2 separate regions of the Homo sapiens genome follow, and region 1 is linked to region 2. The links come from fine-mapping of genetic effects on gene expression. A gene starts in region 2. The other region holds a variant in brackets. All regions are shown on one strand. Distances are from middle to middle. Region 1 holds the start of KCNA6-AS1 (KCNA6 antisense RNA 1). Region 2 holds the start of KCNA6 (potassium voltage-gated channel subfamily A member 6).

Region 1 (5,371 bases), 23 kb after region 2:
GAGTGCATGTGCATGGATATGCAAGTGTTTGTATAATTTTATGAATGGAACAGAGTCCGCAGTGTGTGAAGCAAGAAAGCCTGAACAATCTATTGACACAATAAAGCACTCATAATTGATGCTGTTAGTTATAGATAACTCATCATCGTTTCCTTTTTATCTTAAGGTTCCCAGGCACGTTGGCTGGGAAATGTGTCATTTTATAATTGGAGTTTCACCCCGGTGGAGCAGGAATAGGATGGGATTTGGCTGTCTACTGTAACCCCATCCCCCCAAAGCATGTCTGTACTTACCGTCTGAGGAGGGTGCTTCCCCTCCTTGAGCTGATTTGCCTGTGCTGTCCAGAAGCATTGCTGGATATGATTATCCAGTAGAAAAGGAGCTAATCGACAAACTTTTCACTGGCATAACGTGTCCACATTGCTCTTATTGCTCGCTAAATATAGAGGTTGCCAGGACCCCTTGAAATTTTGATTCAGAAGATCTGGGAGAAGCCTGAGAATATGCCTTTTTAAAAAACATGTGCTCTGAGTGATCACCTTCATGGATTTTGGGGAAGTCTTAGGTAGCAGGTCTCAACCTTCATAGGATATCAGCATCACCAGATTCTTTTGAAAAAAGTACCACTTCCTGTCCTTCTGCTCACTGCCTGCCCTAATTTGAATAACTGATCTAGGGTGGTTTCCAAGTTCAGGATTTAAAAAAAAAAAAGTCTCTAGAGGTTCTTGTGTGCAGCCATAGTTGGGTACCTCCAGCCCAAGAAGTTCTGCTGATAATATCGCACCTATACATTTAATTGCACTTCACATTTTACAACTCTCTTTCACCATTGAACATCGTAACAATTCACTAAGGTCAGTAAAGCAGGCATTATTATATTGTCCTTGGCCGAGAGAGGTTGACTGAATTGCCCGAGGCTGCACAGCTTCTCCCTCAGTCAGCAGCAGCTGTTCCCTACTTGGCTCATGGCCAGTCCTGCCAGTTCTTTTGGAAGGGGCAGCCTCCACTCCCCTGAGACTCACAGGATGAAATCAATTGCCTCTCCTAGTGCTGATGCTCGCGAGGCTCTTTCTTCCCCTTCTCAGCCACATCTTTTCTACTGCAGCCACTCTTCCTGCTCAGAGGGCCTCTCTCTGAAAGGTGCAGTTGCGTTCCCCTCCCATGCTCCATCCCACTTAACGGTTAGGTCATGGCACTGAGGGATGGACAGCTTGGAGCCTGGACAGTCCACATCCTCCACCGTGGTCTGAGGACAGAGACGTGCTGCCCCCCAGCTCCAGCCCCTTCGATGCCATCCTGCAGAAAGCACTGTGCACGCTGCATGGCAGGAGCCAGTAAAGTTCCACACCCCCATCCCAAATTCTCACATCCACCACCAAAGCTTCCTTCACCCCTGCATCCCACCGCGGATAACCTGAAAGCCCACCTGAGTCCTTCCTGGGAGGCGGCTGTGTGGGGCTGGAGCCCCCTGCAGTGGTGAGTCCCACTCCGGACACCTGGCCAATGGGAGCTTAACAAGGTGGCCAGCGAAAGAGAAACAGAACCCGGTAACGGCATCTGCCCCTTCCGCCATCCTCCACCCCGCAACCCGCTGCGGGCTCAAAATCTCTCCTCATTCAAACCGAGGACTTTTGTTTCTCTTTACTGTTCCTCTCCTTGTCCAGACCTTTTCCTTCACACAGGCTGTATCTTGGAGAGGCTCCCAGTGACTGTAGACTTCCTGTGTCAGAATCCTGCAGCCTCTGTCCCTGGGCTGCTTGGGCGGAGTGGGAGGCTGCGGGAGAAGGCGGGGTTTGCCTTGCAGGCAATGCGGGCAGGGGCGCTGCACCCAGGGAAGAGTTCCAAATGCTGATTCTCCCCATGGCCTTTACCTACCTACCTATTCAGCAGCCTTGCAACTGAGACGAAGCCACCCCCTAGCAGACTTTTGCAGGATATCGTTCACTTTCCTCTCTCAGGCCCTGCCCACCACGGGTTGTTGGTTTTGTGAGTTGGTGTGGGGGAGTCAGCAGGGTCCTCAGTGACTTTTGATCTTTCAGCGCTGACTTTCAGGAAAGGTAAGCTCTCTGCCAACAAAGCTGGTCTCCGCTGTGCCTCCTCCTCTTATACAACAACCCTAAGTGGCTTTCCTGCCAGGTGAGAGGATTTGCAAGGACTGCGGAGGAATATGGGACCGACGAGCTCTCCTTTCTCAAAACAGAGGGAGCCTTGGTGCAGATGCACAAAGTGGTCCTTGAAGTTGCATGTGGCCCGGAGCGGCTGGCTTGGTGGATCTTTACTGTT[C/G]TGGTTGGGCATTGTCAGGCAGCTATCAGAGGGCCCAAGAGTCCTTCACAATAACTCGTTATCACCCACAAGCAGCCAGCCAAGTTAGTACCTGCTTGACCCCGTCCTGCTGACAGTGGATTGGACCAGGGTTGAGCCTGAGAGCCAGCCAGCATGAGCCTCTTTCCTAGAAACCGTTAGTCAGGAAAAAAACGTTCTGGTTCAGTCTGGGCTAGCCTCTCTATGGGAGAGATGGAAAACCTCCCAGCCATGGGAGCTGGAAGGGGTCGGATCCATCCTCCAGCTCCGCTTTCTCCTTTTGTAAATGCCAAAAAGAATTGGGGTCCTGAGTGATGACTTGATTGGCCCAAGGCCACGTGGCTACTATGACTACTTTATAACAGAGCTGGATTTTGGAGTCCAGTGTGTTAATTCACTTACTCCCTTGGCTAAGACACGGAGCTTCTGAAAATAATCTCTTATGAGAGCTTCCATTCAGCTCAGACTTTGAAGAAATGATAGTTCTTGCATACTATATACAGAGAGAGCACAGGTCTCAGTATCAGACTGATCTGGGCTCAAACCCTGGCTCTCCGAGTCACTAGTATTGAGATCTTGGGCACATTTCTCATACACCTTGTGTTCCTCCAGTATAAAATGGGGATCACTCTGGTCTCACAGAAACATGGTGAGGGTGTTCTATTGAGTAGAAGATACGCTTAGCAAATACTCATTGCTAAATAAAACAAGGCTTCCTGGTCAAAATGAGTAATAGCTCTCTCCTTCCTAGTGCTCTGATTCTGAAGATGGTGTAGTTGTGGAATTATTTAGTGCCCTCATGTTTGTGGTTGGGACCAGAGAACAGGGGCCTTTCTTTTGCTTTTCTTCAGACCCCGAGAGCCTGGGTGTCATCAGTCAGCCCACGACCATCCCTTGTGGGCTTGGGAAAACTCAGACAGAGAGGGAAATGTGAGACTCTGGCAATGTGAAAAAAACAAGTACCTCTCTATTACTTATTTTCTAGTCTTGTGAAGTTTGTTCAACCTACAACCCAGCATTGATTCAAGGCCTCCTCTGTGACCCCACCCCAGCGGCAGTGCGCCCACTGGGTAAGATAAAGTGAGAGGTGCAGGGACGCACAGGTAGAAGGAGATCCTTCAGGCCTGGTCACATCTGAGGTTATGGGGCGGTGGCCTGATACTCCTGAGACAATACGCTTTTTGATACTCTTTTGAGGGTGGCTGCAGAGGACATTGGCTTGTACCTCTGGCCCCTCTGTTCATTCTTCACCTCATAGAATGAACATTTGCAGGCCTGCATTGAGACACTGTTTTGTCCTTGTTATGTGCTTCATGCCCTAAATCACCACATCAGAATTCAATTCCTAGTCACTCACCTGTCTCCAGAACAAATCCCTATGGAATATCCATCTTTCTAGACCCAGAGAGGGTCCTGCCTCTCTCAACCCTCCCTCTCTCCTCATGACTCGAAATCCTAAATCTCCTTCAAAGACCACCTAGCTCATATCCAGCTCTTCATGAAGTCTTTATGTGGACTGGACCACTCCTTTTGCACTCAGCAGAGGTTACCTTGTGTTGCTGTACATTTTTAGACTGTAAGAGTCCTTTCTAGAGATACATGTGCCACCAAACCCTCACCTCAGGGGGGTCAACAACCTAGTTGAAAATACGTCTTAAGTGTAGTTGGGCTGCCATTTTCTTGAAGGCAGGGCCCTGTCTCATCGTTTTTATTCCTCAGAGCACAATATCAGGGAACTATAGGCTGCATGTAACAGTGGCATTAAAAAAAGAGAATATTTTTTATCTCATATGAAATGGAGTCTTGAGGAAGGACAGCTTCAGGATTCGTAATGCATCAGTTAGCTATTGTGACATAGCTAACCAATTAAAAACCGAAAAGTTTGAAACACCACCATTACTTTATAGCTCCCAATTCAAGCAGGTCAGCAATTTTGGCTGGGCTCAGCTGGGCAGCTCTTCTGGTCTCACCTGTGCTTCCTCATGCATCTGTGATCCCTCATGCATCTGTGGTCATCTCTAGGTTGATCAGGTGGTGCTGCTGGGGGTTGTGTGGCTGTTGGCCAGGGAGCCTCAGTATCCTGCCCATGTTGCTCCCATGTCTCTAGCAGGGCAGCCTGGAGTATCCCTCTTGAGACGAGATTTGGAGTTGGTGCAGTCACTTCTGCTGCAGTGCTGTTGACTAAGACTCAGTAATGAGGAAATAGACTCTGCCTCTTCGTGGGAGGAGCTTCAAGGTCACATTGCCAAGGGCAGGTGGAGCATTGGAAGCATTTTTTGTAGTGGGTCTGCCATAGCCAATGATGTTAGGGCTTGAAGAAGTCTGTTCTTAGGACTTGCTTGGCTTTTTGCCTCATGCTCACAGATGGCAGCAGCAGTTCCAAGCATCATGTCCTCACACAACAGTGTGTGAAGGCAGGAAGGGTTGAGCCTAAGGATGAGGAAAACTTCCCCAGCTGTCTCCTATGAGCCTTTCCTTAGGCTGTGGTTAGGGCGGGGCTGTCCTAACCAGAATAGACCAACGGCTAGGATTACCATGATTAACTTAGAGTCATCCCTAGGCTGGGAGGGACTTGTCTTCTTCTTCTTCTCCTTCTCCTTCTTCGTCTCCTTCTTTTTTAAATTAAATTTTTTTTTTTTTTTTAGACAGGGTCTTCCTCTGTCACCCAGGCTGGAGTGCAGTGGCGTGATCATGACTCTCTGTAGCCTTGATGTCTCAGGCCCAAGGGCTCCTCTCACCTCGGCCTCCTGAATAGCTGGGACTACAGGCACACCCACCATGTCTGGCTATAAATTTTTATTTTTATTTTTTGTAGAGACAGGGTCTTGCTATGTTTCCCAGGTTGGTCTGAAACTCCTGGGCTCAAGCAGTCCTCCCACTTTGGCCTCCCAAAGTGCTGGGATTACAGGTGTGAGCCACCATGCCCAGCCAGCCTGTCTTCTTTGAAGTGTTGGCTTCCAGAAACCTGAACAAAATTGGGGTTCTGAGAGCACAAAGGCAGTAGTGAGGGGTGACAGCTGGGTTGGGAACCGGTAGGGTGCAGAAGAAGAAACTTACGTCGTGTCTTGTA
Region 2 (5,371 bases):
AATAACAACAAAATCTGTGCTGGCATGAAATTGGTGCTTGGTGAATGCTGGGGAAAAATCCCCTGCCATTGGAAGCCACTTGGCAGTGTTTATGGATGGAGCTGTGTCTTCCTTCACCTGGGAACTGGCATTTCTGAAGGTGTGATTGTACTCATCCTTAACATACGCTTGGGGGGAATGATCTAGGCATAGGGTTTTTCTTAAGCTAAGAAATGAGTCTATTTCACAAAAGAACTAAAAACAGAACTCTGATTCATGAATTTGCCAATGGCTTGTCCTTCTCAGGGGAACCTCCCTGGGCACAGTGAAACCCTTCTTGGGGCACGACCTCATGCTTGATGTGAAGGTCATCACAGAACATCAGCTCTGCCTGAAGGGTGGCCGGCAGCCCAGTCAGGCTTAACCCGAGGGGTACTCAAACGGAGGTTCTTGACACCTTATCAGGGTGTGTACGCTTCTGCAGAACGAAGGTTCCTTCCCATGCTTTGCCAGGATTGGTTTTGAAGAATTACTGACCTAGTTGACAGTCTCGTGAATAAAAATGGCAATGATGAAAACAAACCTGCAAATGAATCATTCATTATGAATTTGAAAACAAAAACAAAAAGAATCAGGGGTTAGTCAATTTATGACTCAGAAAATAATGACAGATAACTGGATAAGGGTAAAGTGACAGATAACTGGATGGGGGTAAAGAGTATCTTCTATAGTGTATTTGCTGTTGGTTTCCTTTTTTTTCTTTTCTTTCAAAAAGATTTTTTAAACAGAGCAACTTTTGTGTGGAGTCTAAATGGCTTAATTACATAGTCTGTAAGTGAGAAAACTCCGCTGGATGACTCCATGTACTTGCTTTCTCTCCCTTCACGGAAACATGCAAGGTGAGAGAAAGGAGTGGAAATGAGACAGGCAAGCATGAGATGGGCAAGCTGGCTGCTTTCCTGTTGTGATGTGGTTTGGAGAAAAAAGAACAAAAGCCCTTTACTCAAGCTGTAACTCCCAGCCAGTCAGCATCAAAGGCCCAAGAAGCTATTAACCACAAATTAATTAACCCCTTGCTTTAGAGAACTAAGGACCTTTCTGAGGCCCTACGTGCCTAGCTAGGCTTAACTTTCACCTCATCATGAACTTTTCCTTATTTTAGTACTAAAAATCATGCCCACAGGTGGAGATTTAAGATGCTAATGAGACATATGTTGTATGAAGCAGCATCTTAAGCCACCGTACATGTGCCCGAAAAACCTCACCTCTACATGCCCTGACTTCCCCTTACTGCAGACCTCCACAAAGGGAACCCACACCTTGACTTTGGAGAGCAACCCACTTCCTTTCTTGGTGTTTGGTCCCTTATGTCCATAAGCTTTCATAAAATCTTTCTCTTTGCTACTGTATGCTGTGATCTCTTTTGATTTCTATCCTGGGGGATCAAAAAAGCCCACAGGGCGTTGGTGCCAGAAATCAGCTGTGCAAGCACAGAAAGGGAGCAGAGGCTGTTGCCTGGCTCAACTGGTGAGGAGCAAGACTGGAGAATGAGCATGCAGTGAGTTCTAATACTAGCACATTTCTTACCCACTCAACACCTGATCCCTTCCCGACACATCCAGGAGCCTTGGTTCTCTCCTTCCTCCAACTCTCTGAGAGTGAATGCTGCTGAGAACCACTGTGGTTTTAAAATACTCCGTGCAATACAAAGAACTCTCAGATGCATCCTGTGGTTTGAGAGCACCTTTATGTGTCATTCTCATCATTAACCTCAATGAATGCATACTAATGATCTAATATGCACCAGAAGCTACACAAAAACACTTTGTAGTTGTTAGCCAATTCATTTTGGCTACAGCCAGCCAGAAAAGAGGAAACTGAGGCACAGAGAAGCAAATGTCAACCCTACCTGGAAGTGTCAGTCTGAAAAGATCAGTTGAGTCTTCCTCTACCAGACCCCAACTTGTCTGGTCTCGTGAAGAAAGACAGAAATGGATGGAAAACCATTCTTATCACCTTCTTGCTGGAGAGTTAGGGAAGAGTCAGCTGGTCCCTAACAACAAACTTTGCCCTACTCCAGTACTGCCAAAGGGGTCTTTGTTGTAACATGGCCTACAAGGAGAGGACATCTTTCTGGGAAAGCACCTAGAATGTGGCTGGCACATATTCAATGCCCAGTAAATGTAGCTATTATTTTTTCAATCAACACTCTTACATACCCCTTTTCCACTCACCCTCTTCTCCCTTTTTTTGGTCACCCAATAAGCAGAAATTCCAGATGCATCCTTCGGGGTGGTTGGGAGCAAAGGATCCCCAGGGTGCACTGTGCCCTGGGCTGAGGTATCTCTGAGGTGCTTCCATCTTCTGGGTCCTTCCTCACTGGGGTTGTTGCCTCAGGCTCTCAGGACTCCCCTGGAAATCTTCTGATGGGAAAGGCATTGATTGACTTGCCACCCTTTCTCTACCATCCCTTTGCAATTCTGGGAGAGTTGCAGCCCCGCCCTCCCAGGCTTGCAAAGGTAGACGGAGAATTATATTGGAATTTAAATCGGAAGCTCTCAAGGCATCTCAAAAATACTTTCTCTATTTTTTTTTTCCTGTAGATATTGGAGAGGTTGGCAAACGGGTCTTCCTGAAGACAGAAGAATGTATGATTTAATGTTTTCTTTAGATTTCTGTATGAGTGGATGCACAGTGCTCCGTATTGTGTGGTGGGGCGGGGTGTGTCTTCTTATTGATGAAATACACTGCGCAGGTCAACTCGGTAAATTGAAATGAGAAGAGCCGACTGCGGGGGTGGAGGGGGTGTGGTATTAGGGTGCCGGCGCTTGTGGAGGGGGGCGCGAATGTGAACGTGTGAAAGCGAGAGGCGTGCCAGGAGAGCGCGGGAAAGCTTACTGGTGAGGCAAGTGTGCGTCTATTTCCATGGCGCCCTGGCTCGCGGCAGCCCCTGGCTGGGCGAGGGGTGTGATGTGGGAGTGGGGTGGGAGGGGGCAGCAGGCGGGGCCTGCCACGTCACTTGGAGAGTGTGTGTTGGGAAGGAAGGGCAGAGCGGAGAGCCGAGCCGCTGCAGCTGCGGCGGCGGCAGCGAAGCCTTGAGCCGTGGGGAGGTGGGTCCCCGCGCTCGGGCGCCGGGGCAGCCCCGGGCCCTCTGCGAGGCCTGCGGCGCGGCTCCTAGGGAGGAGGTGGCGGCTGTGGCGGCCGGAACCGCGACCTTGGCCGGACCCAGCCCCGCGGTGGACGCAGGGCGGAGGCCGAGCCCCGCCAGGAGTCTTTGCCGAGCCGGAGGGAGGCGCATCTGGCGCTTCGGTACCAGCGGCAGCCGGGGGTCCGGAGCGGCTGGAGGAGCGCAGTGGGAACTGGGAAGAGCTAGCCCGGCTGGAGGGCGGACCTCTGCGTCCGGGAGCCGGGTCTCAGGCACCGCTGGGGGCGAAGCCACGCGTCTTTTCGGGCAGCCAATTTCACACGCGCCTGTGTGCGGTTCCGGGCATCCCAGTAAGCTCTAGCACCCGGGCGCGGGTAACGGGAAGCGCAGAACCAAATCCCCAGCGCCCAGGTCACCTCCCCAGACCCAGCCTTGCAGGGACCAGGGCTTTAGGGCTCACGGACCCAACGGCCAGGTCAGACCGCGAACCGGGAGGAGCGCGGGCCCCACCCTAAAGAGGGCGCAGCCGGGAGCTGGGGAGCGGGTGCCGCGCTCCAGAGATTGTGTCGTGGGCGCCGTCCTAGTGGCGGGGAGCGCACCTCCGAGGGGGCATGAGATCGGAGAAATCCCTTACGCTGGCGGCGCCGGGGGAGGTCCGTGGGCCGGAGGGAGAGCAACAGGATGCGGGAGACTTCCCGGAGGCCGGCGGGGGCGGGGGCTGCTGTAGTAGCGAGCGGCTGGTGATCAATATCTCCGGGCTGCGCTTTGAGACACAATTGCGCACCCTGTCGCTGTTTCCGGACACGCTGCTCGGAGACCCTGGCCGGCGAGTCCGCTTCTTCGACCCCCTGAGGAACGAGTACTTCTTCGACCGCAACCGGCCCAGCTTCGACGCCATCCTCTACTACTACCAGTCTGGGGGCCGCCTGCGGAGGCCGGTCAACGTGCCCCTGGACATTTTCCTGGAGGAGATCCGCTTCTACCAGCTGGGGGACGAGGCCCTGGCGGCCTTCCGGGAGGACGAGGGCTGCCTGCCCGAAGGTGGCGAGGACGAGAAGCCGCTGCCCTCCCAGCCCTTCCAGCGCCAGGTGTGGCTGCTCTTTGAGTACCCAGAGAGCTCTGGGCCGGCCAGGGGCATCGCCATCGTCTCCGTGTTGGTCATTCTCATCTCCATAGTCATCTTTTGCCTGGAGACCTTACCCCAGTTCCGTGTAGATGGTCGAGGTGGAAACAATGGTGGTGTGAGTCGAGTCTCCCCAGTTTCCAGGGGGAGTCAGGAGGAAGAGGAGGATGAAGACGATTCCTACACATTTCATCATGGCATCACCCCTGGGGAAATGGGGACCGGGGGCTCCTCCTCACTCAGTACTCTTGGGGGCTCCTTCTTTACAGACCCCTTCTTTCTGGTGGAGACGCTGTGCATTGTCTGGTTCACTTTTGAGCTCCTGGTGCGCTTCTCCGCCTGCCCTAGCAAGCCGGCCTTCTTCCGGAACATCATGAACATCATTGACTTGGTGGCTATCTTCCCCTACTTCATCACCCTGGGCACTGAGCTGGTGCAGCAGCAGGAGCAGCAACCAGCCAGTGGAGGAGGCGGCCAGAATGGGCAGCAGGCCATGTCCCTGGCCATCCTCCGAGTCATCCGCCTGGTCCGGGTGTTCCGCATCTTCAAGCTCTCCCGCCACTCCAAGGGGCTGCAGATCCTGGGCAAGACCTTGCAGGCCTCCATGAGGGAGCTGGGGCTGCTCATCTTCTTCCTCTTCATCGGGGTCATCCTCTTCTCCAGTGCCGTCTACTTCGCAGAGGCTGACGATGACGATTCGCTTTTTCCCAGCATCCCGGATGCCTTCTGGTGGGCAGTGGTTACAATGACCACGGTAGGTTACGGGGACATGTACCCCATGACTGTGGGGGGAAAGATCGTGGGCTCGCTGTGTGCCATCGCTGGGGTCCTCACCATTGCCCTGCCTGTGCCCGTCATCGTCTCCAACTTCAACTACTTCTACCACCGGGAGACGGAGCAGGAGGAGCAAGGCCAGTATACCCACGTCACTTGTGGGCAGCCTGCGCCGGACCTGAGGGCAACTGACAACGGACTTGGCAAGCCTGACTTCCCCGAGGCTAACCGGGAACGGAGACCCAGCTACCTTCCTACACCACATCGGGCCTATGCAGAGAAAAGAATGCTCACGGAGGTCTGACCCATGCAGGCAGGGCCTGCAGGAGGGGAGCACTGAGCTAACAGTC

The links.
Region 1: its variant is fine-mapped to the expression of KCNA6 in whole blood (INTERVAL, PIP 0.97).

The regions. Positions count from the first base shown.
Region 1 is chr12:4,829,004-4,834,374 of GRCh38, forward strand. KCNA6-AS1 (KCNA6 antisense RNA 1) reads right to left here and starts at 1,768. Exons shown (of 3, transcript NR_199077.1): 1 at 1,427-1,768. It also overlaps a transcript of KCNA6 not described here. RefSeq lists enhancers at 407-596, 657-816, 1,246-1,747. The variant C/G (reference allele first, on the strand shown) is at 2,284.
Region 2 is chr12:4,806,307-4,811,677 of GRCh38, forward strand. KCNA6 (potassium voltage-gated channel subfamily A member 6) reads left to right here and starts at 3,028. Exons shown (of 1, transcript NM_002235.5): 1 at 3,028-5,371. The coding sequence starts at 3,736. The coding sequence ends at 5,325. KCNA6-AS1 (KCNA6 antisense RNA 1) reads right to left here. Exons shown (of 3, transcript NR_199077.1): 3 at 1-562.